Linked DNA regions of Homo sapiens. The protein of the gene in region 1 purifies or fractionates together with the protein of each later gene. This does not show direct contact. Each region holds a gene or a part of one and is shown on either strand. Other genes may lie near its edges.

The links.
Region 2: the proteins of CD200R1 (region 1) and IPO8 purify together in Homo sapiens (co-immunoprecipitation; one large-scale study listed by IntAct). This does not show direct contact.
Region 3: the proteins of CD200R1 (region 1) and NCR3LG1 purify together in Homo sapiens (affinity purification with mass spectrometry, with the first as the bait; one large-scale study listed by BioGRID). This does not show direct contact.
Region 4: the proteins of CD200R1 (region 1) and IPO5 purify together in Homo sapiens (co-immunoprecipitation; one large-scale study listed by IntAct). This does not show direct contact.
Region 5: the proteins of CD200R1 (region 1) and KIF2A purify together in Homo sapiens (co-immunoprecipitation; one large-scale study listed by IntAct). This does not show direct contact.
Region 6: the proteins of CD200R1 (region 1) and XPO4 purify together in Homo sapiens (co-immunoprecipitation; one large-scale study listed by IntAct). This does not show direct contact.
Region 7: the proteins of CD200R1 (region 1) and IPO11 purify together in Homo sapiens (co-immunoprecipitation; one large-scale study listed by IntAct). This does not show direct contact.

The regions. Positions count from the first base shown.
Region 1 is NC_000003.12:112,933,604-112,938,102, forward strand, and holds part of CD200R1 (cell surface glycoprotein CD200 receptor 1 isoform a precursor), read right to left. Parts: intron 1-4,499. UniProt on the Homo sapiens protein: Inhibitory receptor for the CD200/OX2 cell surface glycoprotein. Limits inflammation by inhibiting the expression of pro-inflammatory molecules including TNF-alpha, interferons, and inducible nitric oxide synthase (iNOS) in response to selected stimuli.
Region 2 is NC_000012.12:30,678,317-30,682,815, forward strand, and holds part of IPO8 (importin-8), read right to left. Parts: intron 3,502-4,499; coding exon 3,343-3,501; intron 2,323-3,342; coding exon 2,166-2,322; intron 1-2,165. UniProt on the Homo sapiens protein: Involved in nuclear protein import, either by acting as autonomous nuclear transport receptor or as an adapter-like protein in association with the importin-beta subunit KPNB1.
Region 3 is NC_000011.10:17,361,596-17,366,094, reverse strand, and holds part of NCR3LG1 (natural cytotoxicity triggering receptor 3 ligand 1 precursor), read right to left. Parts: intron 1-4,499. UniProt on the Homo sapiens protein: Triggers NCR3-dependent natural killer cell activation.
Region 4 is NC_000013.11:98,015,781-98,020,279, reverse strand, and holds part of IPO5 (importin-5), read right to left. Parts: coding exon 4,499-4,499; intron 3,552-4,498; coding exon 3,429-3,551; intron 1,796-3,428; coding exon 1,576-1,795; intron 700-1,575; coding exon 471-699; intron 1-470. UniProt on the Homo sapiens protein: Functions in nuclear protein import as nuclear transport receptor. Serves as receptor for nuclear localization signals (NLS) in cargo substrates.
Region 5 is NC_000005.10:62,308,940-62,313,438, reverse strand, and holds part of KIF2A (kinesin-like protein KIF2A), read right to left. Parts: intron 1-4,499. UniProt on the Homo sapiens protein: Plus end-directed microtubule-dependent motor required for normal brain development. May regulate microtubule dynamics during axonal growth. Required for normal progression through mitosis. Required for normal congress of chromosomes at the metaphase plate.
Region 6 is NC_000013.11:20,794,056-20,798,554, forward strand, and holds part of XPO4 (exportin-4), read right to left. Parts: intron 3,003-4,499; coding exon 2,709-3,002; intron 2,202-2,708; coding exon 2,021-2,201; intron 1-2,020. UniProt on the Homo sapiens protein: Mediates the nuclear export of proteins (cargos), such as EIF5A, SMAD3 and isoform M2 of PKM (PKM2). In the nucleus binds cooperatively to its cargo and to the GTPase Ran in its active GTP-bound form.
Region 7 is NC_000005.10:62,485,371-62,489,869, reverse strand, and holds part of IPO11 (importin-11), read right to left. Parts: intron 4,452-4,499; coding exon 4,408-4,451; intron 2,100-4,407; coding exon 2,009-2,099; intron 569-2,008; coding exon 521-568; intron 1-520. UniProt on the Homo sapiens protein: Functions in nuclear protein import as nuclear transport receptor. Serves as receptor for nuclear localization signals (NLS) in cargo substrates.

The DNA.
Region 1 (4,499 bases):
CAAATCAACCCAGTAATTCTCCAGTAACATAACCAATTATAAGGCAATATATGAAATGCCAGAAGAAGAATTCAAAATAATAATCTTAAGGAAACTCAATGAGATAAAAGAGAATACAGATAAACAATTCAATAAAATCAGGAAAACAATTTGTGATTTAAATGAAAAATTCAACAAAAAGATAGCTATCATAAAAAAAGAGATTTTAGAGCTGAAGAAGTCAATGAATGAAATAAAAAATACGATTTTTCAACAACAGCATAGAAAACGTAGAGGAAAGGATTTCTGAACTTGAAGACAAGTCTTTTGAAATAATACATGAGGATTTTAAAAACAAAAAGAAAAAGAATTTTAAAAAAATAAAGTTTACAGGATTTAGGAGACATCAGTAAGCAAAAAACATTCACATTATAAAAATTCTGGAAGGAGAAAAGAAAGAAAAAGGCACAGAAAACATATTTAATAAAATAATAGCAGAAAACTTTCCAAGTTTTGGGAGAGAGAGAGAGATTCAGATCCAAGAAGTTCAAAATTTCCCAAATAGATTTAACCCAAATACATCCTCTCTAAGGAATGTTATAGTCAAATTATCAAAAGGCAAAGACAAAGGAAGAATGATAAAAACACGCAAGAGAAAAGCATCAAGCCAAATATAAGGGAATCCCCCTTATACTGATAGCAGATTTCTCATCAGAAACCTTATGGGCCAAGAGAAAATGGAGTGATACATTCAAAGTACTGAAAGAAAATAACTGTCAGTGAATATTATATCCAGAAAAACTATCCTTCAGAAATAAAGGCAAGACTGTCACCAAGCAGAAAAAAAAAATCAATAAAATGACAGATGTAAGTTCTCATCTATCAAATAATCTTGAATGTAAATGGATTCAATTTCCCAATTAAAAGATATAGACTGGCCAAGTGGATTTAAAAATATAAGACCCAGCTGGGCATGGTGGCTCACGCCTGTAATCCTAGCACTTTGGGAGGCCAAGGAGGGTGCATTACCTGAAGTCAAGAGTTTGAGACTAGCCCGGCCAACATGATGAAACCCCATCCCTACTAAAAATACAAAAATTAGCTGGACATGGTGGCGGGCACCTGTAATCCCAGCTACTCAGGAGGCTGAGGCAGGAGAATTGCTTGAACCGGGGAAGCAGAGGTTGCAGTGAACCAAGATCATGCCATTGCACTCCAGCCTGGGTGACAAGAGCGAAACTCCATCTCAAAAAACCAACTATATGCCACCTACAGGAAACTCATCTCACCTGTAAAGACACACATAAACTGAAAGTGGAGTGGAAAAAAGACATGCAAACAGAATCCAAATACAAGCAGGAGTAGCTATACTTACATTAGATAAAACAGACTTTAAGACAAAGGCTATATAAAAAAGAACATTATGTAAAAATAAAGGAATTTATTCAGCAAGACGACATAACAATTGGAAATATATATGGACCCAATGTTGGAGCACCCAGATATATAAAGCTAATATTATTAAAGCTAAAGGGAGAGATAAACCTCAAAGCAATAATAGGTGGGGACTTCAACACCCTACTTTCAGCATTAGGCAGATGATCTAGACAGAAAATCAAGAAACATTGGATCTAAACCACACCATAAATCAAACAGACCTAACAGACCTTTACAGAACATTTTATATAACAGCTGCAAAATACACATTATTTTCACCAGCACATGGAACATTCTCCAGAATTGACAATATGTTAGGTCACAAAACAAGTCTCAAATAATTTTTAAAAATTACAATCATATCATCTTATGTGACCACAATGGAATAAAATTAGAAATCAATAACAAGAGGAACATTTGAAACTATACAAATACATGAAAGTTAAACAGCATGTTCCTGAATGACAAATGAGTAAAGAAAGAAATTAAGAAGTTTAAGAATTTCTTGAAACAAATGAAAATAGAAACACAAAATACCAAAACCTAAGGGATACAGCAAAAGCAGCATTAAGAGGCAAATCCATAGCAATAAATCCCTACATCAAAAAAGTAGTAATATTTCAAATTAACATCCTAACAGCACATATTAAGGAAGAAAACCAGGAATAAACTGAACCCAAAATTAGTAGGAGGAATAAAGATCAGAGCAGAACTCAATGAAACTGAACCTAAAAAGAAATGCAAAAAACCAACAACAAAAAAGTTTTGTTTTTTCTGTTTGCAATATTTTAACTTCAGGGGTATATAGGTAGGATGTGCAGGTTTATTAGGTAAATGTATGCCATGGTGATTTGCTGCACAGATCATTCCATCACCGAGGTATTAAGCCCAGCATCCATCAGCTATTCTTTCTGATGCTCTCCCTCCTCCCACTCCCCACCCTCTGACAGGCTCCAGTGTGTGTTTCCACCCTCCATATGTCCATGTGTTCTTATCATTCAGCTCCCACTTATAAGTGAGAAAATGCACTGTTTGGTTTTCTGTTTCTGCATTAGTTTGCTGAGGATAATCTAATCACCTCCACCTGCATCCATGTCCCTGCAAAGGACATGAACTCATCTATACATGGCTGCATAATATTTCATGGTATATATGTACCACATTTTCTTTATTCAGTCTATCACTGATGGGCATTTAGGTTGACTTCATGTCTTTGCTATTGTGAATAGTGCTGCAATGAACATACACGTGCATGTATCCTTAAAATGGAATTATTTATATTCCTTTGGGTATATACCCAGTAATCAGATTGCCGAGTCAAACAGTATTTCTGCCTCTATGTCTTTGATGAATCACCACATTGTCTTCCACAATGGTTGCACTAATTTACACTCCCACCAACAGTGTAAAAGTGTTCCTTTTTCTCCATAACCTCGCTAGCATCTGTTGTTTCTGGACTTTTTAGTAATCACCATTCTGACTGGTGTGAGATAGTATCTCATTGTAGTTTTGATTTGCATTTCTCTAATGATCAGTGATGTTGAGCTTTTTTTCATATGTTTCTTGGTTGCATGTATGTCTTCTTTTGAGAATTATCTATTCATGTTCCTTACCCACTTTTTAATGGGGTTCTTTTTTTCTTATACATTTGTTTAAGTTCCTTGTAGATGCTGGACATTAGGCCTTTGTTAGATGAATAGATTATAAAACTTTTCTCCCATTCTGTAGGTTGTCTGTTTACTCTGTTGATAGTTTCTTTGGCTGTGCAGAAGCTCTTTAGTTTAATCAGATCCCATTTGTCAATTTTTGTTTTTGTTGAAGTTGCTTTTGGCATCTTTGTCATGAAATCATGAAATCTTTGCCTGAGCCTATGTCCTGAATGATATTGTCTTGATTTTCTTCTAGGGTTTTTAGAGTTTGGGGTTTTACGTTTAAGTCTTTAATCCATCTTGAGTTGATTTTTGTACATGATGTAAGGAAGGTGTTTTACTCTGCTCTCATGCTGCTAATAAAGACATACCCAAGACTGGATAATTTATAAAAGAAAGAGGTTTAATTGACTCATAGTTCAGCATGGCTTGGGAGGCCTCAGAAAATTTACAATCACGACAGAAGGGGAAGCAGACATGTCCTTTTTCACATGGCAGCAGCATGGAGAAGTGCCAAGCAAAAGGAGGAAAAGCCCCTTATAAAACCGTCAAATCTCATGAGAATTCACTCACTATCATGAGAACAGCATGAGAGTAACTGCCCCCCATGATTAAATTACCTCCCAGCAGGTCCCTCCCATGACACATGGAGATTATAGAAACTACATTTCAAGATGAGATTTGGGTGGGGACACAGCCAAACCATATCAGAAGGGGTCCACTTTCAATTTTCTTCATATGGCTAGCCAGCTGTCCCAGCACCATTTATTAAATAGGGAATCCTTTCCCCATTGCTTGTTTCTGTCAGGTTTGTCAAAGATAAGATAGTTGTAGGTGTGCGGTGTTATTTCTGGGTTCTCTATTCTGTTCCATTGGTCTATGTGTCTGTTCTCGTACAACTACCATGCTGTTTTGATTACTGTAGCCCTATAGTATAGTTTGAAGTCAGGTAGCATGATGCTTCCAGCTTTGTTCTTTTTGCTGAGAATTGCCTTTGCTATTTGGGTTATGTTTTGGTTCCATATGAATTTTAAAACTGTTTTTTCTAATTCTGTGAACAATGTCAATTGTAGCTTAATGGGAATAGCACTGAATCTATAAACTATTTTGGGCAGTATGGTCATTTTCACAATATTGATTCTTCCTATCCATGAGCATGGACTGTTTTTCCATTTGTTTGTGTCATCTCTGATTTCTTTGAGCAGCAGTTTATAGTTTTTCTTAAAGAGGTCCTTCACTTCCCTTGTTAGTTGTTTTCCTAGGTATTTTATTCTTTTGTGGCAATTGTGAATGGGCGTTCATTTATGATTTGGCTCTTGTCTTGTCTGTTGTTGGTGTATAGGAATACTAGCAATTTTTGCACAATGATTTTGGATCCTGAAACTTTGCAGAAGTTACTTATCAGCTTAAGAAGCTTTTGGGCTGAGATGATGG
Region 2 (4,499 bases), on another chromosome or scaffold:
CCTGCAAGTTCCATTCATGGTAAGTACCCTATACAGGAGTGCTTTTTAAAAAATATCTTATACTGCATTTTTAGCATATCTTTTCTATTACTTACCATTGAGTTACAGCTGCTTTCAGTATTTGGTACAGTAACATGTACAGGTTTGCAGCCAGGGAGCAACACACAGCCTAGGTATGTAGTAGGCTATAGCATCTAGGTTTGTGTAAGTACACTCTACAATGTTCACAGAGGGACAAAAATTACTTAACAATGCATTTTCTCAGAATGCATCCCCAAAGTTAAGTAACACATGACTGTACATGTACAAAGGTAGGAATAAGAGAAGAAGGTGAGGAGATGAAGGGCTTTATGGGCTATATTAAGAAGTTTCAAATGCACTTTATTCTAAGTGCATTTGGAAGCCATTTGGATTTGATATAGGGAACAGAGGAGAAGTAGGCTGAGGGTTAGGCTGAGCTTATGTATAGAATATCCAAGTGTCCTGTACAAATATTATGCTACTTAGACAAGATCTGTTGTATCATACTTTTATTTTATTTGAGGCGGAGTCTCGCTCTGTCACCCAGGCTGCAGTGCAATGGTGCAATCTCAGATCACTGCAACCTCCGCCTCCTGGGTTTGAGCAATTCTCTCACCTCAGCCTCTGGAATAGCTGGAATTAGAGGCACCCGCCATCATTTCTGGCTAATTTTTGTATTTTTCTAGAGATGGGGTTTCACCATGTTGGCCAGGCTGGTCTTGAACTCCAGACCTCAGGTGACCCACCCACCTTGGCCTCCCAACGTGCTGGGATTACAGACCTGACCCACTGCACCCGGCTGCTCATACTTTTAAAAACAAAATTGTCTGCTCCTTCTCATATTATCGCTTTTTACTTATGTCAGCATTGTAATAGTGGCTCCTAATGCCTTCTAAATTTCTACTTCCCAGAGGAGAATATTAATGTATTAGTACATAACAGATTACCAAAATGGTTAAAAATGTTGAGGTTTTCCAGGTTTTTAGCAAGTATAGACTGAGAAAAATATGAAGATTCTGTCGTCTTAGCAAACCAATTAGAGGTAGAGGCTTTAGAAAAATTATTTCATTAGCCTTTGTCTTACTTCCCAATTTCTAGCTGTTTCTGCCAATAGAAAAAGGAAGTCTGGCCTCTGAATATTATTTCAAAACAAGTGAGAGAACATATTTTCCTAGTATTCTAGTTTCTTCTCTTCTCACATTTGCCTCCTTCCCTCTTCTCTTTCCCTGCAAAAAGGCTGCTCTGGGGGAAAAAAAAAAATATCTGCCTCAGACTATCCCTATTAAAAGTTTAAAAGGGGAAGCTTTAATAAAAATATAAATCTTTATTAAAGTAAAATATTTTGAAATAGTTTAAGTATCTAAGTCAATAAAAAGCCAAGGATGGATCCAAACTATCATGGTTTTTGAGCTCAACAAAACCATCCTCTTCTCACGACAAATTCAACTAGAAAGCATGTAATAGAGTTTAATTCATTCATCAAACAGTTAAGACTGAAAACAATTATTCTTCCTCCAATCAGACCTAAATAATTTACCCAAATCTTTCAAGGATTTGATGTTAAATATTTTTATATTTCAAACATATTCCATCTCTATCTTCTCATTTCTTTCCGGATTCCCATGTTGGTATCCCTTATAGCATTCAGATTTTTTTTTTTTAGGCAGTATTTTAAACCAAGGAAAATGAACCCTAAATCCTCTGTTAGCTTTGAGTCAAATGCAAAGAAACTACCATCAATATGATTTCCCAATAGAAGAGGGACTCCCTTCTTCTTTTCCTTCTTCTTTTCCTTCTTCTTTTCCTTCTTCTTCTCTTGTAATCATAACTAATCTATAGGCAGGAATGCTACAGAACAGATAGTTGCGAGTAATCAGGTTTTAGAGCAGGTAGGTTTACCTACCCTGGTTCTGCTTTACCCATGATTTCAGACACTGGAGTGAAAAGCACTTAGGGGCAGATATGCCATTGAGACGATCTTGGGTAATTAATTTCTGTGAACCTGTTCCTCATAAGCATTTTTTAAAGAAATATATGGGATAATACAAAATAATTTTTAATAATAAGTGACACTTATTGAGCACTTTCCATGTGTCAGGCAGAAATACAGGACTCCATGTTTGTTTTCTGCAATAGAAACCTACCTGAACAAGTGCATAAAAGATTTTCAGAATTTGTTTCTGCAGTAATACAGAATAATAGGAGGAATCAGGAAGGAGCTGAACAATTTGTTGCTGAATACGAGGCAGGAATATCTGCATTGCTATTATAAGAGGTTCTCTCTCTTCTGCTTTCTTATATCTACATGAGCAAAGACAAAAACAGAAAAGTAATTTTTCCCACCCAAAGAACCATCAACAATAAATTATAAAATATTTTTTAAATACATAAAACTAACAAAACAAAGTCATTAACATTGGCTTCTAGTTTGTTTGAATTGCTAGAATTAAGTTGAAAAGAAATTTAAAATAACACATCCTGTTTTAGGCACAACACCTAAAATCTTTCTGGAAAGATTTAGACTAGTTTAAAACAACCCGAGACCATTTTGCAGTTTTCCTACATGAATGTTTCTAGTATTTAAATTAATTTTCATCCAGCCAAAATTCTTACTATAAAATATAAGTTGCTATGCTATTTTAAATAGACTATATAACAAATAATATGGGGGGAATTTTCTTATTATATTTCTCCCTGAATTGAGTAGTTAAAATAGTTTAAAATTTAGGTGCTCTTAGATTGCTTTAATTGCCATAAATCTAAAATATGTTCTATAAATTTCATAAGCAGAGTAGGAACTAGTCAGTTTAAAAGGAGAACTACAGGACTTCATATACACATGTAGCAATCTTCCTAGAAACCAGAAAGCAATACTATTAAGTGTGATATTAGTCCTCTACCTACCCAAGCTACTTTTATGGAAAAGAATGTCATTAGCAAAGAAACGTTAACATTTTCTATCTTGCATCCAAAAAAGTAAATGTTTTGGTTTACTTAATATACTCCCTAGAAGACAAATATAAAGGTATCTCTATATCAGAGTTTCCAAGGAAAGCTGTTAATAAATGGTACTGTGCAACTAACAAGTTTGAGAAGTGCTTCATATTATATCACTGTCTCAGAGGTTAGCAATATCCATCAGCACATTAAAGTTTCTTTCAATAACTGCAGCAAATAAACACATTTAAGCATGTTTAACCCAACATTTCCCAAACTAATCTGATAACCTGTGCAGAACATCCACAACAGACCACTCTTTGCAACTTCATTATTTCTAAGTTACACAAGGCTGCTTTCTTCAGCCAATGGAAACCAACTTACTCATATGTCTTCACCAGTTGATACAGGCATAATAAACTGCCAAGCCAGCTTGCACTGCTCTGTGATTGCAAGTAATAGTCTATCTTGTCGACCACTCCTGGCCAGTGACCAGGAAAATCATGTTTTATGATGGCACGGAGACACATTGTTAATTGGACTCTACAAAGTAGGGAAGAAAAGTCCAAAATCTAAGTAATTATAAATACTGTGTTTCAAAGACCTCTAATATTTTACATAAAAGTTTGTTATCTTCTATTTACGTGTATTATATACTTACATATGTGGGGTAGGGGAAAAAGACATATCTAAAAAACATCCTCAGTGGCTCAACTTGTTGAAAATAAACAGAATGGGTGAGTTTCTAAAATGAATGAAACCTTTCAAACTATCTTATCCTAAATACAGTTTAAAAAAATTGTTTTAAATAGTTTAAAATTTTCAAAAAACTCCAATGAATCTACCTCCACTCTGTAAAATTTCCAGCTTATTATATCTCATATTTTGGTTACCATATCCTGAATGGGGGAAAAAATAACACTTCAAACAGATAAACCTAGTCTAAAGATGGTACAAGTAAGTACAAAGAAGGCCTACATAATGGTGGGAAGCTTCTCTATGGGCCAAAACCTTGAACTCATCCATTATCAATTAAAACCCAACATCGTATGTTGAATCTATCCAAAGCAGTCTGAGATACTAATTTTTGTACCCCAAGTATAAGAAAGAAACATGTATTATTAGCGAGGCAATTCCTGAAGAGGAGAGCTAAGAGCTATTTCCAAAGAAATAAATGAAAAAGGCAACAGAAGAGACATAAAACAGAAAAAGAAAATATTCCTTTAATAAAACCACAAAGTTAAATGCTAAAATAAGTTATCTGATAACATAGATAAGTAATCATTTCCTCAATGAGATTTCAACTTTAACTGGAACTGAAAAGAAAATAGGGGGAAAAATTTCTTTTCTATAAACTATCAATTCAATGTTATCACCAAATATGACCTTACATGACATTTTCAAATGGTTAGAAAACAAACTTGGCAAAATTAGGATTCCACAGGGCAACTAAAAAAAAAATAAAGCATTTTCAGTTGAACAACCAGTAACTCAGATTCACTTAAACTGGTAAAATTAAACAAAATGATGCCTTTTCTTCA
Region 3 (4,499 bases), on another chromosome or scaffold:
CAGGTTTCCCTCTCACATGAGAGGTCATCACTCCCACCCTATAATAAGAACAAAAGCTGAACAAATTGAAAATCAACAGCTTTTCTTAGATTCCTCAGAGAATTGAAGTGACAGGGCAAACTGCCACTCAGAAAACTGGAGAAAGAAGGAGATTAAGAAAATTACAGCTAAGATCAAATCACCTCATGCAGAAGCTGCTGGAGTCATAAACCAGTAGAAGTACTTAAGCAGTAACTCCGACAAACTGCTAAAGGATGAGTGTGGACTAGCTTGAGAATAAAAACCTCCTCAGGTCCTGGTCTTAGGGATGCTTACCACACTTTCATGGGTTTTCATCCTCGGGACCCAGTCTTGGGGATGCTATCACACTGTCATGAGTTTTACTTCCAGGAACCCCACCAGATTCTCACAGTAAAGAGCCAAGAAAAATCTCCTCCTCTTTCTGGGGGATGGAAAGAAGTAATCATTTTAAAATATACCTAGATTATTCCCTCCATCTCAAGGGAAGATGTCAGAGCCTTATCTGACCTGAGAGAAGAAAATTAGCCAACTCCAGCTGTCTATAGCCTTTCTGTATTACTTAAGAAGAGAGAAAGAGAAAAGGCTAAGAAACACTTCTGAAGGCCACAGTCCAGAGGCTCAGGCCACTAAAAGAATAAGATTTAATCATAAAAGTATAAACAGATTCTCCTCCAACACTTTACTACCACATCAACAGGGCTCCAGTATAATAACAGAAGATTATAAGTGAGAGAGCTACAAGGCACAGAACCTATTTAAGGAGTTCATAAGGAAACCCAAAGACAATAGGAAAGGAGAGAAAAAAACACTAGAGAAACTGAAGTCTCTGGCACCTATAGCTACAATAAGCATTAAACACAACCCAGCTCCTAGCCAAATTAACATAAGGCCGCATAATAAAAGCCTATTACCTGATACATAATATCTCTCTTTCAACTAAAAAATTACAAGGCTAAAAAATACATAAAAACAAAGCAAACATCAGACCCAGACTCAGGTATGACACAGATTTTAGAATTATCATATAGGGAATTTTAAAAAACTATAATTAAAATGTTAAGAGCACTAACAGAAAGAGCAGATAACATGCACAAACAGATGGATAATATAAGCAGAGTGATGGAAATGCTAAGAACGAACCAAAAGTGAATGCTAGAGCTCAAAACACCATTAAAGAAATGAAGAATGCCTTCAGTGGGTTCAACAGTAGACTTGAAACTGACAAGGAGGCTGAACGCAATGGCTCATACCTATAATCCCAGCACTTTGGGAGGCCGAGGTGGGTGGATCACCTGAGGTCAGGAGTTCGAGACCAGCCTGACCAATATGGAGAAACCCCATTTCTACTAAAAATACAAAATTAGCCAGGGGTGGTGGCGCATGCCTGTAATCCCAGCTACTTGGGAGGCTGAGGCAGGATAATCACTTGAACCCAGGAGGCGGAGGTTGCAGTGACCTGAGATCACGCCACTGCACTCCAGACTGGGCAACAAGAGCAAAACTCCGTCTCAAAAAAAAAAAGAAACTGACAAGGAAAGAATCAGTGAGCTTGAAGATGTTAATAGAAACTTCCCAAACTGGGCACGGTGTGGTGGCTCACACCTATAATCCAAGCACTTTGGGAGGCCAAGGTGGGCAGATTGCTTGAGGTCAGGAGTTGGCGACCACCCTGTCCAACATGGCAAAACCCCGTCTCTACTTAAAAAACAAAAATTAGCCAGCATGGTTGTGCACACCTGTAGTCCCAGCTACTCAGGAGACTGAGGCACAAGAATTGCTTGAACCTGGGAAGCAGAGGTTGCATTGAGCCAAGATCCCGCCATTGCACTCCAGCCTGGGATACAGAGCAAGACCCTATCACAAACAATTTTTAAAAAAGAAACTTCCCAAACTGAAATACAAGGAGAAAAAAGAATTTAAAAAAAACCCCAGAATAGCCAAGAACTGTGGGATACTGCAAAAGGTGTAACAGATATATAATGGGAATACAAGAAGAAGAAAAGAGAAAGGAGCAGAAGAAATAATTTGAATAAATAATGGCTGAGAATTTTCCAAAATTAATGATAGACACCAAACTAAAGACCCAGGAAGCTTAGAGAATACCAGGCATGATAAATATCCAAATATGCCTATCCACGTCTAGCCATATCATATTTCAACTTTAGAAAGACAAAGATGGCCAAGCATGGTAGCTCACTCCTATAATCCCAGCACTTTCAGAGACCAAGGCAGGTGGATCACTTGAGCTCAGGAGTTCGAGGCCAGCCTGGGCAACATAATGAAACACCATCTCTACAAAAAATACAAAAATTAGCCATGCTTAGTGGCACCCGCGTGTGGCCCCAGCTACTTGGAAGGCGGAGGTGGGAGGATCACTTGGGCTTGAGCCCACTAGGGTGAAGCTGCAATGAGCCGTGATCATACCACTGCACTCCAACCTGGGAAACAGAGTGGGACCCCATCTCAAAAGAAGAAAGAAAGAAAAGAAAAGAAAAGAGAGAAAGAGGAAGGAAGGAAGGAAGGAAGGAAGGGAGGGAGGGAGGGAGGGAGGGAGGGAGGGAGGGAGGGAGGGAAAAGAAAGACAGAAAAAAGTCACAGGAAAAAAAACACACCTTACATATAGAAGAACAAGAACAACACTGGACTTCTTGTCAGAAACAATGCAAGCAAGGAGAGAGTGAAGTGAAATATTTAAAGCATTGAAACTTAAAAAAGAGAAAAACACCAACATGGAATCTTATATCCAGAAAAATTTTCCTTCAAAGGTGAAGTATAAATAAAGACTTTCTCAGACAAACCTTTCACCAATAGACCTGCTGTGCGAGAAACATAAAAAGAAGTGCTTTAGTGGGCCAGGCATGGTGGCTCATGCCTGTAATCCCAGCACTTTGGGAGACCAAGGTGGGAGGATCACTTGAGCCGAGGGAGTTCAAGACGAGTCTGGGCAACATAGACTCCATCTCTTAAAAAAAAAAAAAAAATTAAATTAGCAGGGCATGGTGGTGCATGCCTGTGGTCCCAGCTATTCCAGAGGCCGAGGTGGGAGTATCGCTAGTGCCCAGGAGGTCAAGGCTGCAGGGAGCCATGATCGCACCACTGCACTCCAGCCTGGACAGCAAAGCAAGACGTTGCAGGAAGAAAGGGAAGAGAAGGGAAGGGAAGGGAAGGGAAGGGAGGGGAGGGGAGGGGAGCGGAGGGGAGGGGAGGGGAGAAAGAAAGGAAGGAAATGAAGAAATGAAGAAAGGAAGAAAGGAAGAAAGAAAGAAAGAAAGAAAGAGAGAGAAAGAAGGAAAGAAGGAAGGAAGGAAAGAAAGAAAGAAAGAAAGAAAGAAAGAAAGAAAGAAAGAAAGAAAGAAAGAAAGAAAGAAAGAAAGAAAGAAAGGAAGGAAGGAAGGAAGGAGACACTGAGTCAATAACTAGTAAAAAAAAAAAAAAAGAAGAAGAAAAAAATCACCTTCCAAAAAGGAAAGCACCAGGTTCGGATGGTTTCACTGGTTAATCCTACTAAACATTTAAGGAATAAATAATGCCAGTTTTTTACAATTTCTTCCAGAAAGTAGAAGTAGACAGAGGGAACACATTCTAACTTATTCTACAAGCCCAATATTATCCTACTGCCAAAACCGCATAAAGACATTACCAGAAAAGATAACTACAGATCAATATCACTCATTAAAGTAGATACAAAATCCTCAAGAAAATATTAGCAAATATAATCCAACAATACAGAAAAAATTACATACCATAACCAAGAGAGGCATATTACACATATGCAAGGCTGGCTTATCATTCAAAAATTGGTTAATGTAAGTCATCATATCAACAGGCTAAAGAAAAAATTATATGATCATACCAATAATGCAGAAAAAGTATTTGACAAAACCCAAGACTGATTCATATGAAAAACTCTTAGCAAACTAGGAATAAAAGGGAAACTTCCTCAACTTGCTAAAGAATATCTACCAAAAAATAGCTAATATCATATTTCATGGTTAGAAAGTAAAATCAGAAATGGACAAGATGTCCCTTCTAACCACTCCTGTGCAACATTGTAATGGAAGTCTAAGCTAGCATAACAGGACAAGAAAAGGAAATAAAAGGTATAAAGTTAGAATGGAAGAAATATGAGGCCTGGTACAGTGGCTCACACAATGTAATCCCAGCACTTTGGGAGGCCAAGGCAGGGGGATCACTTGAGCTCAGGAGTTCAAAACCAGCCTGGGCAACATAGTGAGACCTCACCTCTGTAAAAAATAAAATAAAATAATGGAAGAAATAAAACTGTATTTTTAACAGACAGCCTGATTTATGTAGAAAAATCTCAAGACTTGGCCAAAAACAAAAACAAAAACAAAAACAAAAAAATCCCTAGAATGAATAAGTGATTAAAGCAAGTTGCAGGATACAAAGTTAATAAGCAAAAATCAATTATTTGACAGGAATGAACAATTGAGCAACTGGAATTTGAAATTAAAAAT
Region 4 (4,499 bases), on another chromosome or scaffold:
AGAGCTTAGATCTGACTGATATTTGGGGGGAACTTGGACTTAGAAAACAGACACTAAACAACATTCCCTTAGGCTGGGTTTGGTGGCTCATGCCTGTAATCCCAGCACTTTGGGAGGCTGAGGTGGGAGGATCTCTTGAGGCCAAGAGTTTGCGACCTGCCTGTGCAAAACAGTTAAGACCTTGTCGCTACCAAAAAAATTTAAAAACAAAGAAATAAATAATTAAAGTGCCTCATCTGTTGAATCTAATTTCATAAAGAATAACTCAAAATTAGACCTTATTATAAGGGCAATGTTAACTGTGATATGGTTTCTTAATATGATTTATAAAGACAGCACTATTATAAACCTATACAACTGAGGACTGTGCAGAGATCATGTGGTTAAACCTTAAAAGACTGATGTTAGGCAAGAAAAACCAGGAAGCACTGTGGAGGAGAAGGAAATAAGGTCACAGTCTGCTTTCCTACCTTTCAATCAGGTCACACAGATAATTGAAAGTCTGAACAGCTTCTTCTTTATCTTCATGTAGTGGAAGCCAAGACAACCAGTGTGGAAGGACCTCTTCAACGTTTACACAGTCAGGCTTGAACTTCATGATTTTCCCTACTGCTGAGATGCAGTTCTCTGTAGCATTGACATTTTCTTTGGTCTTAGAATCCGCAGACTGAATAACTCTTACCAGCAGGGGAAGTGCTTCTAAAATAAGCATTTGAAAGAAGTTCAGCTAAAACCTCACATTTTCATGCAAATGAATATATGTATTTTTGTATTTGGTTCAGATATTGATTATGGTAAAGAAATGTTAAAGTGTATGGGAAGTGTTGTCTTCTTGGCTATGTCATTACAGAATGGCAACAGAGGGGGGACTGCCCCAGCATGGACAGGAGCACTAGCCCTCTACTAACTTAGAGACCCAGAGAGATTAGTGGCCTCCAGATTTACAGTACTCATCACATCACCCGAGGGTCCTTAAACTTTAAAAGCTGCCTAACTATATTCCCCAGTAAGTTTTAAAAGTCCTATTCTGCCAGGTGTGGTGGCTCACGCCTGTAATCTCAGCACTTTGGGAGGCTGAGGTGGGCCGATCACGAGGTCAGGAGATCGAGACCATCCTGGCTAACATGGTGAAACCCCATCTCTACTAAAAATAGAAAAAATTAGCCAGGCGTGGTGGCATGCGCCTGTAGTCCCAGCTACTCAGGAGGCTGAAGCAGAATTGCTCGAACCCGGGAGGCGGAGGTTGCAGTGAGCCGAGATCATGCCACTGCACTCCAGCCTGGGCCTCAATTAAAGAAAAAAAAAAAAGTCCTATTCTAAGGCTGTTGTATATTGCCAAAACGCAAAGAGAAATGCACCCTGGAAGGCTGGGGGCAGGGGATGTCTTTGATTCTATTTCTATGAGAATAAATCATCTTTTTATCATCTAAAATCCTAAATGCTACAGATGAGATGTCTGAAAACAGACTACAGCAGAAATAGGCAAATAATGTTTGGGAGTGTGGTAAAGAGAGTAAAGTAGGGATTCACAGGATGTCTGGAATGAAATGCACGTAACGGAATAAGCAAACGTACCTGTACAAAAAGGGCGATAATTATCTCCACCGTACTGTGCCATGACTCCCAGGCCATATGCAGCTGCTTGCCTGACTTCTGGGCTGTTGTCACATACATATTGGAGCATTGGTCTTAAGAAATATTCTGCGTATTTAAATGAGGCTGGACTACAGTGTTCTATGACATCATCAAAGATGCATAATCCCCATTGTCTGTCTGGCCATGGTCTATGTGGACACTACAAAAGAAATTCTCTTTTAAGCTTCAAATACTGGTGTACACAAAGAATGTAAAGAAATATTCACTATAGACTATCTGCTTACATTGATATTCCTCATACAGGCAAAAGAAAAAAGAAAACATAGTAACAACCACTTCTTGTGACCAACGATATTCAATCAAATACACAGATTTAATAAAATTTAGGTTTCAAAGACTTGTATGATTTGTTACAGAACTCTACAATCTGACACTATCACACAGAAGAACTGACAGTGGAAGCATTGTATATAAATTTACTTTGTAAAAAAGACAATGGTAATGCTACATTAAAAAAATACAATAATAATAAAAGCTGCAAAGATCTTAACTTATAGCATTTATTCAACAGGCTAAGTCATGTGTGCCCGAATCTTTTAAAAAATGTACTGCACTACTTAATACAATAAAATGCAAAATTGAAAGCCAAAAAGAAAAATTCCAAACATCTGATGATAGCTGCTAATTTATAATATATTTTTTAAAAACCGAATACACAGCCAGGCGAGGTGGCTCACGCCTGTAATCCCAGCACTTTAGGAGGCCAAAGTGGGCGGATCACAAGGTCAGGAGGTTGAGACCAGTCTGGCCGATATGGTGAAACCCCATCTCTACTAAAAACCCAACAAAAAAACACAACTAAAAATACAAAAAAACAAAACAAACAAAAAAACTGAATACACATAGGCCATTATATGATGTGTTGATGTAGGTCCATAACAGAAACACATGTATCTACTACTGTGATGGGGGGTGTTAATGGTGCTGAGGCCATGCACGCACAGGGGCAGAGGCACATGGGAAATCTCTGTACCTCCTGTTCAATTTGGTTGTGAATCTAAAACTGCTTTAAAATAGGAAGCGTAGGCCTGGGCGCAGTGGCTCATGCCTGTAATCCCAGCACTTTGGGAGGCCGAGGCGGGTGGATCACTAGGTCAGGAGTTGGAGACCAGCCTGGTCAACATGGTGAAACCCCATCTCTACTAAAATACAAAAAATTCGTCGGGTGTGGTGGCGTGCGTCTGAATTGCTTGAACCCAGAAGGCGGAGGTTGCAGTGAGCCGAGATTGCACCACTGCACTCCAGCCTGGGCGACAGAGCAAGACTCCATCTTGAGAAAAACAAACAAACAAACAAACAAAAAGAAGTCTATAAAACATTTTAAAAAAATCAAATATAAGGGTGAGAGAAGGTAAAAAAAAAATACATATATATATATATATGCCCATTATCCATAATCCATGATTGCTGGTAGTACATAACAAAGATAATTGAATTATCTATGGTCCACTAAAAAAGAAGTAACCATTCTGTTTCCTTTTATTAATTTAGGAGGGCACAGATAATCTGAAATAATAAAAAAAATCACTTATATATCTTTCAGATGTGTTAGAACTGAATTGGCCTATGGAAAACCAAGTTAGGAATCTTCAAGCATATAATGAATGAGAAAATATCCAGGGTAATGCAGTCAACTTGATAAAATCAAAGATGTACAATGGAAACAATCATTTCTGAGACCCATTTTAACTTCAAGCATTAGATTTTACGTTGCAGTGAAAAGAATTCCAGGTAAACTACGCAAAACAACTATTAAGAGAGGTAACACTTACAATGAGGTTGACAATTAATGGAAGCAGCTGTTCAAACCATGGTAACACCTTTTCTTTGTAGCTACTGAATATTGAGTGTAAAATATCTGACACTTTGGTCAGAATATAAACATCATTATCATCCTAAAAAAAACATACACATAAACACTCATATGGATTAAAAAGTATATTTTCTATTATCAATAGTAACATTTATAAAAACCTTAAAAAATGCAGAAAATCAATTTCTCATTCCTGTTTTAAGGGTAAATCAAGAGTCTAGAGACCGGAGTAACCCTCAAGTGTGGGTTATCATGTCTCTTACTAATCAAAGGCCAGTCTTACCTCGAAAGACAAAGGTGTGTGGCAAGAACTGTATTTATTGCAAAGATTTTCCTTGGAACATACTTAAAATAGATGGGTTGAAAAATTATCTCTAATTTCTACATTCTGAAACAAAGGTGTTTTCACTATTTTTACTTTGTTTTCAGCAGAATAATCCTCATTTCGGGGTGGATGGTGGGGAGAATGGGGTCTCGCTGTTAGTGGCAATTTGGGCCTACAAGCATGTGGGCACCTTCAGGAAGCTGGTACTACCTACACGGTAGCACTGGCCCACCAAGTGGCCACATATGAGATGCTGGACTCTAAACACACAATGAAGTATGCTTGACAGTCCTAGGTGGTTTGATGAGAGAACTAAGTAACATGGTGAAAAAGGCCCCAGACCGTCAACAGTGTGACTCTAGGCAATCATTTAACACTGGAATTTTAGGTTACTCATCTTTAATATAGTGAAAGCACCACAAAATACAAATGGTTGTTGTGAGCAGTATGTAAATGAACTAGGTAAACCTCAAGGTGTTTTGTTGAGTGAGGTATTACAACAAAATGCACATAGCACCGAAAGACATATCAGTTTAATTTCAAATTACTTATTCATAAATTAAGAGAGGAAATATATCTGACTCCTCTGCTAAAGACTGATAATTACATCAGAATGACAAGTCACATAAATCAGAAATTGAGGCATTTACAAGTCTTTCAGATGCAAGTGGTCACGTAAGTAAGTTCCAAAGGGAATAACTTACC
Region 5 (4,499 bases), on another chromosome or scaffold:
AGAGGTTGCAGTGAGCCGAGATCACGCCACTGCACTCCAGCCTGAGCAACAAGAGCGAGACTCCCTCTCAAAAAAAACTCTGAGGCTAAATTCATCAGGAATGCTATGAGGGATCACGGATATTGGTCATAGAGGAGGAGAGATGGCATATATGACATGTATTTTCCATCCAAAAGGTCCATAACTTCAAGAGTCTAACAAAAAAGCCTAATCTTCAAAAGGAAGGTAGTAATAATGTACACACAAAATGGCATATTTCTATCAGTACTAATCACACTATAGATGAATCACTTATTTACTTGTTTGTGAGGGCAGGAACTATTTTTGCTTTATTCATTTTTTGTATCTCCAACACCTATCAGAATGCCTGATATATAGCAGGCTGTTAATAGAAGTATATTCAATGAAATCTGCAATAAAAAAAAAAGAAACATAAGACCACATTATTTTGATATGTCATAATCACTTAAGGTCTATACTCCAAAATATCACACACCCTAGTGAATGACCATCTGAACTTCGTGTTTTATTGTAGTGGGTAATGATATCATAGTGCACTATAACCTCAAACTCATAGGCTCAAGCAATTCTCCTGCTTTGGCCTCCAAAGTGCTGGAATTACAGGCATGAACTACCATGCTCAGCCTAGAAGCATGACTTTTAAAAGGAACACTTCCCTCACTCATATTACTCTTGGGAGATAGTTTAATATGGTGAAATTCTAATGTCTCTTTTCACTTAGCACTATAAAACCACTAATATTGCTTTATCTAAAAGAGCTGGAAGACAACTTAACCTGTATTTGTTCTACAACTGAACCAGAAGAATAAAAATTAGTTTTATCCAAGGTTTAAAACTTGTATCTATTCTTAAGAATCGTAATCTCAAAACAAACAAACAAATAAACAAACACCTTAAAATTATTTTAGGTTACAAAACAGATGTGTTAAAATTAAAGCAGATGGCTGAATCCAAGAATTAAACTTTGCAAAAGATTAATGTCATATTAATCACAACTATACTTCTGACTAGAAAGAACGGGGTCTAGATGATCTCTCAGGGAATCTTGTTCTGGATTTTCCACACTCTTGCCCCTTGTCTTATTTGAGCAGACACAGATTTAACTGGCTCTTTGCTGTTTTCTCTAGCATTTTAACAATCATGACACATAAAACAAGTTGACACATAGCCTTTCCCCAGAGTTTCAAAATCTTTGTCATAAGAATCAAGTGGCTAGGCAATGAATACAGATTCCTGGCTTTCTGTGGTACTTTTGGAAGCAATAAGTGCCTATTTTAAGTTTTTTGAGCTTCTTTGGTAGTAGTGGAAAGAATTTTACTACAGGGGTTTGTATGTCTCAGAAAGAAATACTAAAGTATACAACTTCACACCATAATCAGCAAACATCTGTCAGCAGCACTTAGAGAGCTGGGAGTGAAGGGATTCGGGCTTTGGCCCAGGCTATGCTCCTTATTAACCATGTGATCTTGGCAAATAATCCAACCTCAGATTCTTCACCTATAAACCAATAATCTGCCACCTTTCTATCCTGCTTACCTCATAGAGTTCCTGTGAAGATCCAATTAGCTAACATGTCTTGAAGCACTTGGAAAACTATTAAGCCCTAACAAATCCATATACAGAAACATTATCGTCCTAGTCCTCAGGGAAAAGGGAACTATTAGGTCACAAATGCCCCTATTCCATCCCACCCCCATAATCAATCACATAATTGTACCTAAAGAACAACTGTATTGCCACATGGTTCATCTTTATTACTTAAATTTACACATGCTATTCTCCAGAAGCCTATATAGTGACGTGTAAAGATGAACTAGCAGAAGAAAAATGTGGCAAAGCATATAAAGAATTAGGCCATTTAAAATCTTTTCTAAAGATTTTCTTTGCCTGCCCTGAACTCCAAAATTCCTGATGGGTCCTTTGAAATCTTCAATTGCCTCTTGATTTCAGATGTTAAAAGGAACTCTTTACACCAATACTTAACTAAGAAACAAGAATACTTTCCTCCCACAATTTTAGGTTTGGTGAACTTGTAGTAACATAGCACTTCTTACCAGGGATCATTCTAATCAAGCTCTGTAACACTGCTCGCTGGTGCCTTTCTCCGAAGTAAGAAGCAATTTCCTACATCTTGACTGGGCTGTAAAAAGCGGTATACGGTTCCAAAATAACAGAGAATTCCTCCTTTACTGTCATAGTTCTTGATAGTCTGATTTCTATGCTAAGCATGTCAGGTTCCTGGCTGCCATTGACAAGTTGTATGAATCTAGATAAGTCACTTATGGTGATCTGGGACTCAAGTTTCCACATTTATAAAAATGAAAACTAGTTTATCTCCAAAAACCTTTCTGGTGGAAATATTCTAAGATTCTCTTCAGATTACATGTATCAATACAGTCACAGTACTGTGACTAAGAGACCCGCCCCCAAAGAACAATCCCATATTAGCTGCAGCTTCCAAATGTTCAACATTTCCCATTTCTTCCCCAGTCCCCAAAGGGTAGTCACAGCTACTACAGAACTGTTAACAGCACAGCTAAAAGAAAAAAAAAACCAAACTAGCTACACGACAGAAAGATTGTAGGTTTTTTTAAGAGTCAGTGGGTTTTAAAAAGGGAAAGGAATTGAATCAGAAAAATAGGAAGACACATGTAAGAAAACACACCAGTCCAATTTCATACCAGGTTATCTCCTGTGGCAGAGAATAATCTTAGCAGTCCAAGCCTAACCCCTGTCACTGATAACCTTAGAAAACCAGAAAAGTCAGATTAACCTTAGCAGATCACTCAATTTCAATTAACGCTGTAGTTCCTGACTAACAGGCCAGCGGGAAGTAGAGGGCCAGAGTAGGGAGGTAGCAGTACAGAGGAGCACAGATGGAAGGTTTCACTTCCAGCTAAGATGTCATTCTAATGATTAATTAAAATGTTTGAAAACAAAAAATCCAATAATGTATGATTTATTCAAAAACGATGTGCAAGGAATTTTGCTAGACATCCCAGTAGTGGGGGTGGGAATGGGGGTAATGACACAGATGCATTCAGGGAATTTAAGAGTCATTAGAGGCTGGGCACAGTGGTTCACACCTGTAATCCCAGTACTTTGGGAGGCTGAGGTGGGTGGATCACTTGAGGCCAGGAGTTCGAGACCAGCCTGGCCAACGTGGCAAAAACCTGTCACTACTAAAAATACAAAAATTAGCCGGGCATGGTGGCACACACCTGTAGTCCCAGCTACTTGGGAGGCTGAGGCATAAGAATCGCTTGAACCTGGGAGGCAGAGGTTGTAGTGAGCGGAGATCGCACCACTGACAGAGCGAGACTCTGTCTCAAAAAAAAAAAAAAAAAGAATTATTAGTTATTAGTAAGTCCCATTACCCCATGCAGTTTAAAAACATAGTATTAAGAATATGTACCCATAGGTATGAGCTGAGAGGAGTGGAAAAAAAAAAGTTACAGACCCAAACATTAATACTTAAGGAAATATGCTGTCTCATGAATAATACAGAATGATTTAGGAATTCAGATGCTGACTGGCCATCTGGTTTTAGTAATCAGTGAAGACTCATTAGGATAGTTTTCATCATGGTCTTGAAAGATAGGAATAAGCTCATTTTAGTGTACCTGTTTGCCCTTGGGATATGTTTATTAGTGTAAGAGTATCACTGATGGGAAAAGTGTGGTCTGAAATAGGGACATGGATCGCCATCAGCAAGCCAAAAGAAAAACATCAAGTCACCAGTTAATAATGGTCTGAAGCAGCCCTTCTTTACTCATGTCATTTCTACTGTCTCAGATATTAGTGTTCCTCCAACTGCAAAGTTTATTTTTGTTATAATAACCACTAGTGTTTTATCCAATATAGACGTTATGGAAGTGAGAGGAAGCAAACAAGCTTCTTTAAAGTGAAAAAGGGAAAGCTTGAGGGGCATTCTCCCAGACATCAATTTCTATTGTGAAACACTACTGTCCAATGCAAATGATCCTTCTGTTCTTTCGAAGTTCTCTACTAATCTCCTGCCTTCCACCAACTCCATCATGCATCTGAGGCACATAAAAAGATACATGACCATAGGTTAGGATAATAACACACTGTGATGACTTCCCTAATTTCTTATAGGCAAACCGCTTTTGAAATGTGGCTTTAGGTTAGTAGCACTTATGTAAGAACACAAAGCTCTTGTATGTCTGGGAACTTCTGGTATAGGCTGAAGGTGAAGGCTGAAAAGAACGAAAATTGCTTCAAGTTCAATAAATTTAAATAAAATATGCTCCGTAGAAATTAAAATGTATAAATCAAATATCATATACTTTTTCTGATACGATTTCAAAGTTAACACCTATACTCATACTTATGAGTGTAAAGAATTTACACATTTTATTGCACCCTAATTTTTTAAAAAATAAATTTCATTGTGCAACTGAGGTTTACAACATGATGCTATGGAATATAGACAGCAAAATGGTGAAGCAGATTAA
Region 6 (4,499 bases), on another chromosome or scaffold:
TCTATTATAATCCTTCCTTTTTTGATAGGATTATAGAATATTCTAGAAATGTGGACTGTCCCTTCTCCTTTCTCTTATTAACGCTGCCCAGCGCTGGGATCTACTGTAGTACTTAAGTAGGTAGGAAACACGATGGAATCACTATTTTAGGAAAATTATTCTGAAAATAAGACAAATCTGGTAGTATGTCAGAAACAACTAGGAAACTTAGTCAAAATATAGATTTCTAGAGTTAGTAGGTCTGCGATGGGGCCTGAGTGGGGGCATAGAATAAGAATCCAAGAAAATGATGATACTATTTCTAGAAATGAAAAAATTGAAACAATGAGCTGATTTATGATACACAGAGTAATCATGACAGTAAATCATCTAAACATATACATGTTTTAGCTCTGGGTCCTAACATTTAGTTACAGATTCCTCTGGGGACAAGATTCTTAACCTGGGTTCCTGACACACCTGGAAAATGTATAGAAGAGTTTCCAGGAGTCCATGAACCAACTAATACTGTATTAGTAAGAGGTTAAGAATGCTGGGCACAGTGGCTCACACCTGTAATCCCAGCACTCTGGGAGGTTAAGGTGGGAGAATAGTTTAAGCCTGAGGTTGAGGCTGCACAGAGCTGTGACCATGCGACTGCACTCTAGCCTGGATGACAGAGGGAGACCCTGCCTCTCAAACAACAACAAGGAAAGAAAGAAAAAGTTAAGAACTCCTGGATTAAGCAGAACTGACCTGAAGAAAGTTAGAAAACTTGGGTGAAAGGCTGGGCCTAAAAACAGACCAGAAAGAATTCACTGAGGAAAAGTGAATTTGTACAGTGCTTTTCAGACTATCTCACCTTGGTACCCCTAGTTAACTGCAAAAAAAATAAAGAGTAAACCTTCTACACTGTGAAGTTGATGGTACCTAGCTCAGGGCAGATATTGGAAAAACCGTTGCCCAAGAATTTAAAAAAAAAAAAAAAAGACATGGTCCAGTGAATAAGGAATACGAAAAAATTAAGGAAACAGAACAATCTCAAGGATTGGGATAAATAAGTCAAGTGGATATTATAGCACCCAACTTAGAAAGAGAATCTTACAAGGAAGAAGCCAAAAATGTCCACTACCACACGTGTCTGCACAACATATAATAGGAGAGGCTAGATATGATTCATTTTTCTGTCATGAAACAGGATCCATTTTGTTTGAAGTCAAGGTTGGCAGTGAGATAGGAGGGGAGTGAACTCTACAGCACTGAAAACTATACACATATATGAGGTTTAAATTACTGATCAGGTTCTTGCCTGTAACAGCAACTATCTTTTACCTACTGATTGTCAGACACAATGCTAGGCACCAAAGACACTTTACAGCTGATCCTTCAAACACACTGAAAGGTATTTATTATCATACCCATTTGACCAGCTAGTAAAGACACAGGTAGGCTAATCAACTCCCCTCACATCATACTGTAGGTGAGACACTAGGCTAGGTCTTCAAAGTGTGGGCTGTTAACTCCAGAGAGAGTGCTTCCTACACCAACAGGGCTTTCCAAGCCACACTCTGGAAAGTGCTAGGGTTTCTGGGGTGGCCACCGTGAGGAACATGGAGAAGTGATTAGTCAGGAAGTGTAACTCTGAAGAGACTGGCATCTGGAGTCACAGGCTGGGATTTGAATCCCAGTCCTGGCTAAGTATCTGTGGCCAAGTGACTTAAGCTCTCTGTGCTTCTGTTTCCTCATCTATAAAGTGAGAATAACAATGGGATTGACTTCATACCATTGTGAGAGGTAAGAACAGTGCATGGCATTTAGTAAGATCTCAATGAATGAGAGATACTATTTCTATTATTCTTACAAGAGGAAAGGCAAGCAGGAGGGCCACTGGTCCTCACCCTCACTTTGACCACAAAGATCTTCTTTCATTTATTCCATAAATTGAATTTCCTCATGAGATGTCTCTTACAGAAAACAATCCTTTGATTTAATAAAAAGGAGGATAACAACAAAGTTTAAAAACCATCACGTTACATTTTACCTGTATCACTGAAATCTATGAATTCTTTTGACAGCAGGTTAGTAAGAAGTTCCATAATGAGAAGCAGGTCTTGGTATTGCTCTTCTTCTGCTGTAACATCTATTCTTTGCCGCCCTAAATTATTCTTAGAATACACTTGCAACAAAGTAAGGCAGGCTTCATATAAGTTCATAGCTTTGGACTGAAAAAAAAAAAAATGCACAAATTATGCTACTTGGTACACTGACATTAAAAAAATTTTAAAATATAATCTATATAAATTAACTCCGAATTCCAACAGTAGCAATAATTCTTGCTTTAAACTACATTAAAACAATAATTTCTAGAAAGCATATATTAAGAGTATATTTTTTTTAATTTTACCCCTTTTCTAACAAAATTTTAGGACAAGAATTTATATTCAGGTGCAGCAAACCACCATGGCATACATATACCTATGTAACAAATCTGAACGTTCTGTATATGTATCCTGTTTCCTTTTAGAAGAAATTAAAAAAAAAATTTACATTCATTCAACATGACTTTCTCTAAATTATAAGTTCTTTTCAAAAATCTTTTTTAAAAATCTTTTGAAGGAATAAAAATATTATTTAAGATAATACTAATCAAATTTTAAGCAAAGATCTATTATTTTATTACAGCTTCAAAGAGTTTTAATCCTGAGGGGATAAAATTAGAAAGTGCTTACCTCTCCAAGATAGCATATCTGTTTATGTGCAACTTCAACAAAAACTTCTATAATGAGATTGACAGTCTCTGGGGTATTCTTGTAAACTTCCATCAATCCAATGCAATTGGTAAGGAAGTCCATTAAAAAATTAAACAGGATTGCTACGTTGTCAATCTGGGTAGCCTCAGCAATGCCACACAGGGCCTCTAGTGTGGCAGTGATTTCCTGCTTGACTTCCTCTTGCTGACACATCTGCTGGAAGTTTTCTTGGTTTATCACTCTTAAGAATCGCTGCTGAAGTGGCTGAAGAACCTATAAAAATAAACCAGGAATTTTCTTAAAGCTCAGTTCTCATGCTTTATTTCCTCTGCTTGGATACATATTCACTTTCCAAAACATTTCTAATTGTTGGAGGCAGGACAAGCACATAACAAAGAATATCTAAACCAGACTTTACACTCCCCATTTTGAGGGTCATCCTAACTTTCCGCTCATGTAAAGCCAGAACACCCAAAGCATGGGACATAACTGTCTCCCTGCCATTCAAAGAATTCTGCCATTTCCCTCCATCTCTTTCCAAGTAATGAGTCAAAAAGGAAAAAAAACTTTGTTTACAAAATCAGACAGTAAGCCACATTTGGCCCATGGGCTGCAGCTTGCCGACCTCTACAGAGTGAAGCCCAATTCAAAGTTCTTGTCTGTTTTTTTCCTTTTTCCTTTACCTAATTCCTCTTGGCACAGAACGTAACTTCAGATAATCAGTCCTGCCCTGTATATAAGAGTACTCATATTCAAGAGGACAGTATCTTAATTCGACTTTAAGTTGTCCATATGATAATACAATTGTTTAAAATAAAAATACTTAGTCAGTCTGGTTTCCCCTGGATTTGAAGTCACAAACAACTGCCTAATTCCATTACTGTGCCCCTTCTCAAACACTAAGGGCCCTCTAGACAAGGACTGCAGGCTGGCAACCTACACACACTGGCAACTCTTGGCCCTTGATTTAAAGCCTATTAAATAATGTGCCCATGGTTGTTGTTATGGGTCAAACTGTGTTCCTCAAAAACTCATATGTGGAAATCCAAACCCCAGGATATGAACTTATTTGATAATAGAGTTGGCCGGATGCAGTGGCTCACACCTGTAATCCCAACGTTTTGGAAGGCTGAGGTGGGCGGATCACTTGAGGTCAGGAGACCAGCCTGGCCAACATGGCAAAACCCCGTCTCTACTAAAAATACAAAAATTAGCCAGGCATGGTGGTGCGCACCTGTAATCCCACCTACTTAGGAGGCTGAGACAGGAGAGTCGCTTGACCCAGGAGGTGGAGGTTGCAGTGAGCCAAGATCACACCACTGCACTCCAGCCTGAGTGACAGAGCAAGACTCCGTCTCAAAAAAAAAGAAAATAGGGTTGTCATAGATGTAATTAGTTCAGATGAGGTCATACCGGAATAGGGTGGGCCCCTAGTTCAATATAACTGATATAGAAAGGGGAAGTGTGGATGCAGACACACACAGGGGGAGCATGTGAAGATGAAGGCAGGGATCAGGGTGATGCGTTTACAAATCAAGGAATGCCAAAGACTGCCAGCAAGCTACCAGAGGCTACAGATTTTCCCTCATAGCCTTCAGAAAGAACAAATCCCATGGACACCTTATAGCTTGGACTTCTAGCCTCCAGAAGTAGGAGAAAACAAATTTCTGTTGTGGTATTTTGTTAGAGCAGCCCTAGGAAATGAATATCATGGTTAATCTGCATCTTATTCAAGACAGGAGAATATTTCCCTGATCCCTAATGAAAATT
Region 7 (4,499 bases), on another chromosome or scaffold:
ACTATAAAAATTATAAAATAATGCCTGCTTCTAAAATGGATGTAATATTTTATGATCTGGTCCCTACTTAACTCTCTCCAGCCTCAACTCAACCTTTAACCCCAATGTTCCAGTTAAACCAAAATAGTCACAATTCAAATTCTAACTGTGCTTCCTCCTCTTTCCTTCAAGTCTTTGTACTTATTGCTCCATCTCCCTGGAATGCAACACCCTCTTTCCATCACCACCTCCTCACACGTGTAACTCCTACTTATCCTTGTGTTCTTCCATTACACTTCTTTGGGAATCTTTCCTTAGACACACCAAACTATCTGGTGATCATCACCTACTTTAGCATTAACTATCCTGTATAGTATTATTATAATACATTATCTGTTTACTTGGTTATCTCCCCAATCAGATTGTTCCTGTATTTTAGTTACTCTTGTATCTCAACACCCTCAGCACAAAATCTACCACAAAACAGACTCTCCATCTACTGAATAAATAAATGCTTCTAAATCACTTAAGTTTAACATACCAGCATCTTTGATTAACAGTGCATTCATATCTTCCACATTTGTGGGTCCTAAAAAATATATATATAAATAGGTATCAGTAAAAGCAAATAAAACTAGTTTTTTAAAAAATTTATATTTAAACACAATTTGTTAGTTTCCCAATTCAATTAAGTATAACACATTTCATGGTGTCAAAAATGGACACAAGTACAAAGGGAAAGTCTAAGTTTTATGATTATCATTAGAGAACACAGGATTAAAAACCATTATAGCATATTTGAAAAATGTTATGACAAGCAATATTCTAGAAAATATACACCACAAAATGCTAATGTGCTATATACCACAAAATTATTTTTTTTGAGACAAGGTCTTGCTTTGTCACCCAGGCTGGAGTACAGTGGAGTGAGGTTTTCTCAGTTCACTGCAGCCTCATCCTCCTGCGCTCAAATGATCCTCCAACCTCAGCCTTCTGAATAGCTAGGACTACAGGTACTAACCACCAGGCCCAGCTAATTTTCCTAATTTTTGTAGCGACAGGTTTTTGCCATGTTGTCCAGGCTGGTCTGGGACTCCTGGGCTCAAGTGATCTGCCCACCTCAGCCTCCCAAAGTGCTGGAATTACAGGCGTGAGTCACCATGCCTGGCCAACACTCATTCTGACAACATGCTCTTCTCTAGGATACACCACTACACCTGGCATTTTTACAAGGCTTTTATTTACTCATATCCCTATAGGTGAAAATCTCAGGTTCTGTCCTTAAGATCCTCTTTTCTTTTCCCAAGGCTCCTTACATACATGCACTCCGAAAGTATATCTCTATCTCCTACCACTTCTAATGAGGTAACTGTTTCCTTGTCATTAAGGCTCAAAAGTTTAGGATCATCTTTGATCACTTTTCCTTGCCTAGCACATTCAATCGGTTGCTAAAAGTCAATCAAGTAACAATAGTTACTGAATATGCCCAGCACTGGGAATAAAATATAAACAAAACAGACGTGATCAATGCCCCTAGGACTTACAGTCTAGCAGAAAAGACAGAAATCATAAATCAATGTTAGTTAATAGGCAGATAATTAGTTACTTGTGTACAAAGTGTAATGACCAAGTGTCAAAAATTTACATCATCATTTTCTCTCAAATCCATAATCAATTATTTCCATTCCCACTGCCACCATTCTAAGAGAGGCTAACACTATTTTAACCTTTTCTCACTATTTCTCACAACACGCTCCAGATAGACTTTCTGCAAGCAGTATGACTACTGTTTTGCTTTTGCTTCTATTGTATTTACTACAGGAAAATTTATCATCGTCCAAACTATAATTCAAGGCCTATCTCAAATGCCACCCCCTTGGAAGATAATAAGTTTTAAAATTGTTTTTCTCAAATTCATATTTATTATATGACCCAGGAAACAGTACAGTATGCATTGTAGGCACTCAGACTATTTCTTAACTAAACGTTAAAGAGATTAACTCAAAGTTAATCACAAAATATGCCTTACCTTGAAGTGTTTGCATCATTTCTAGAAGTACAGGAGTAAGAGTCTGATTATATTCATGGAATATATCTATAAATAATACTTCAGTGCATGGCTGGAGAGGGAAAAATACAAATTTCTCATCAAAACAGTTGCATACTATATTGACTAATTCTTTAATAAAGCAAATACTTAATCTTAAAATTCTAAAACTTTGAAAATGTTTCCAACTTTTGATTTGTTAAAAAAAAAAAGTAAGGTTACCATTTTTTTATAACCAACACAAAGGAAAACAAAATCGAATTATAATTAATAAAAGAAAGTTGATTTCATTTCAATTATTTGTCATTACGCATTCAAAAACTTAAAACTATGGCAAGCAAAGTGTACATTTTAAATTAATCATACCTTAAATTTAAAAAGCATTCTGTAGCCACTCATTTATAGCTCAGTACTATAAATGGCTGACTACCCAAGATTCTTTTTTTTTTGAGACACAGTCTCACTCTGTCACCAGGCTGGAGTGCAGTGGTGTGATTTCGGCTCACTGCAACCTCCACCTCCCAGGTTCAAGCGATTCCCCTGCTTCAGCCTCCCGAGTAGCTATTATGTATTTTCTTAGCAATGATATAATAAGCAAAAACAGGAACTCCAATTTGCCAAATAAAGTAGCCTTTCTCTTAACAAACACAAGCGGTAACAGAAATTAGCATTAGCTACATTTAAAAAAATGATTTGTTTGGTTCTTAAAAGTACTGAATCATTTCACATTGCATGCTGGTATCAAAACATCTCATGTACCCCATAAATATGTACACCTACTATGTACCCACAAAAAATTTTTTAAAATAATTTTTTATTTAAATTTTAAAAAGGAATTTAATCACTAGATCGTTCACAATATTTAAATTTTTTAATTAAATTTTTAAGGTATTGTGTGGTGTTTTAAAAGGAACATTATAAATATACACACTGAAATATGGTCAGAGGATGTGTCATCTCAGATAACCATCAACACTGGGAGATGTTTACAGGAAGCTAAAGTAGCCATGAGTTGATAACTAATAAACTAGCTTATCATGAAGGGCTCATTATATTATTCTATTTTTTAATATGTTTAAACTTCTCCATAAAAGAAACTTTTAAAAATTAAAGGAATGAAATTTTTTAAAGTTTTAAAATCACCAGTAATCTCTCTGGTTAACAACTGTATGTTTATGAATCTAAAAACATTAAAGATAACATTTTTAGAAGACAAATAGCTAATTATGTAAATTATGTAAGTGCAAATCTTAAAAAGAAGAGCTCAAACATCACATCTGGTAACGGCAAAACATTTGTCATATTAATAAATGCGTTGTAAAAGTATCCTATAACTGAAAGCAATGGGCTAGTCTCTGAGAATCACATGAAGTGGTAAGAGAAATAACATACCAAAAGAAACTTTACTAATGAAATATATAGAAGGAAAAAATTCTAGCTTAAGAATGGCAGCTTTCAGTTTGACAAACATTTTCTATTTGTGTAATGACAATTATTTCCCAAGCAATGTACTAAAAGATGAAGAAAAAATTTGTTTTCCGACCCCAAGTTAAACAAAAGAAAAGGCCAGGCACAGTGGCTCACGCCTGTAATCCCAGCACTTAGGGAGGCCGAGGCGGGTGGCTCACGAGGTCAGGAGATCGAGACCAACCTGGCTAACAAGATGAAACCCCGTCTCTACTAAATAAACAAAAAATTAGCTGGGCGTGGTGGCGGGCGCCTGTATTCCCAGCTACTCGGGAGGCTGAGGCAGGAGAATGGCATGAACCCAGGGGGCGGAGCTTGCAGTGAGCCGAGATGCACCAGTGCACTCCAGCCTGGGCAACAGAGTGAGATTCTGTCTCAAAAAAAAAAAAAAAGAAAAAGAAAAAAGAAAAAAAACTCAGATTAAACGTCATAATTTAATATGAATATAGTTCTTAGTTTCTTATAAACAGTTTCTTATCTGTCTGACTTAATGTTGGGAATCTTTAATTTTTTTTTTTTTTTTTTTAAGAGACGGGTTTTGCTTTGTAATCCAGGCTAGAACGCAGTGGCATCATCATGGCACACGGCAGCCTCAACCTCCTGGGCTCAAACAATCCTCCTGCCTCAGATTCCTGAAGAGTTGGGACTACAGGTATGCGCCACCACTCTGGTCTAATTTTTTTTTCCTTTTTTTACTTTTTGCAGAGACAGGGTCTCACTATGTTTACCAGGCCGGTCTTGAATTTCTGGCCTCAAGCGATCCTCCCACCTTGGCTTCCCAAAGTGCTAGGATTAAAGTGTGAGCCACCATGCCCAGCAAATGTCTGGAATCTTTAATAGAGTGTCATTCTCTACTAAGAGCTTTAGAAAGATTAAGCTTTCCCCTATCAATTTTTCTTGCAATTAATACTTACCCTCAAACTATATTTCCAAGAATCTCCTCCTGTTTCTTCCACTGCTGCAATTAAAAATATGTAATAATGACATTTTCAACATCTTGGTTTAG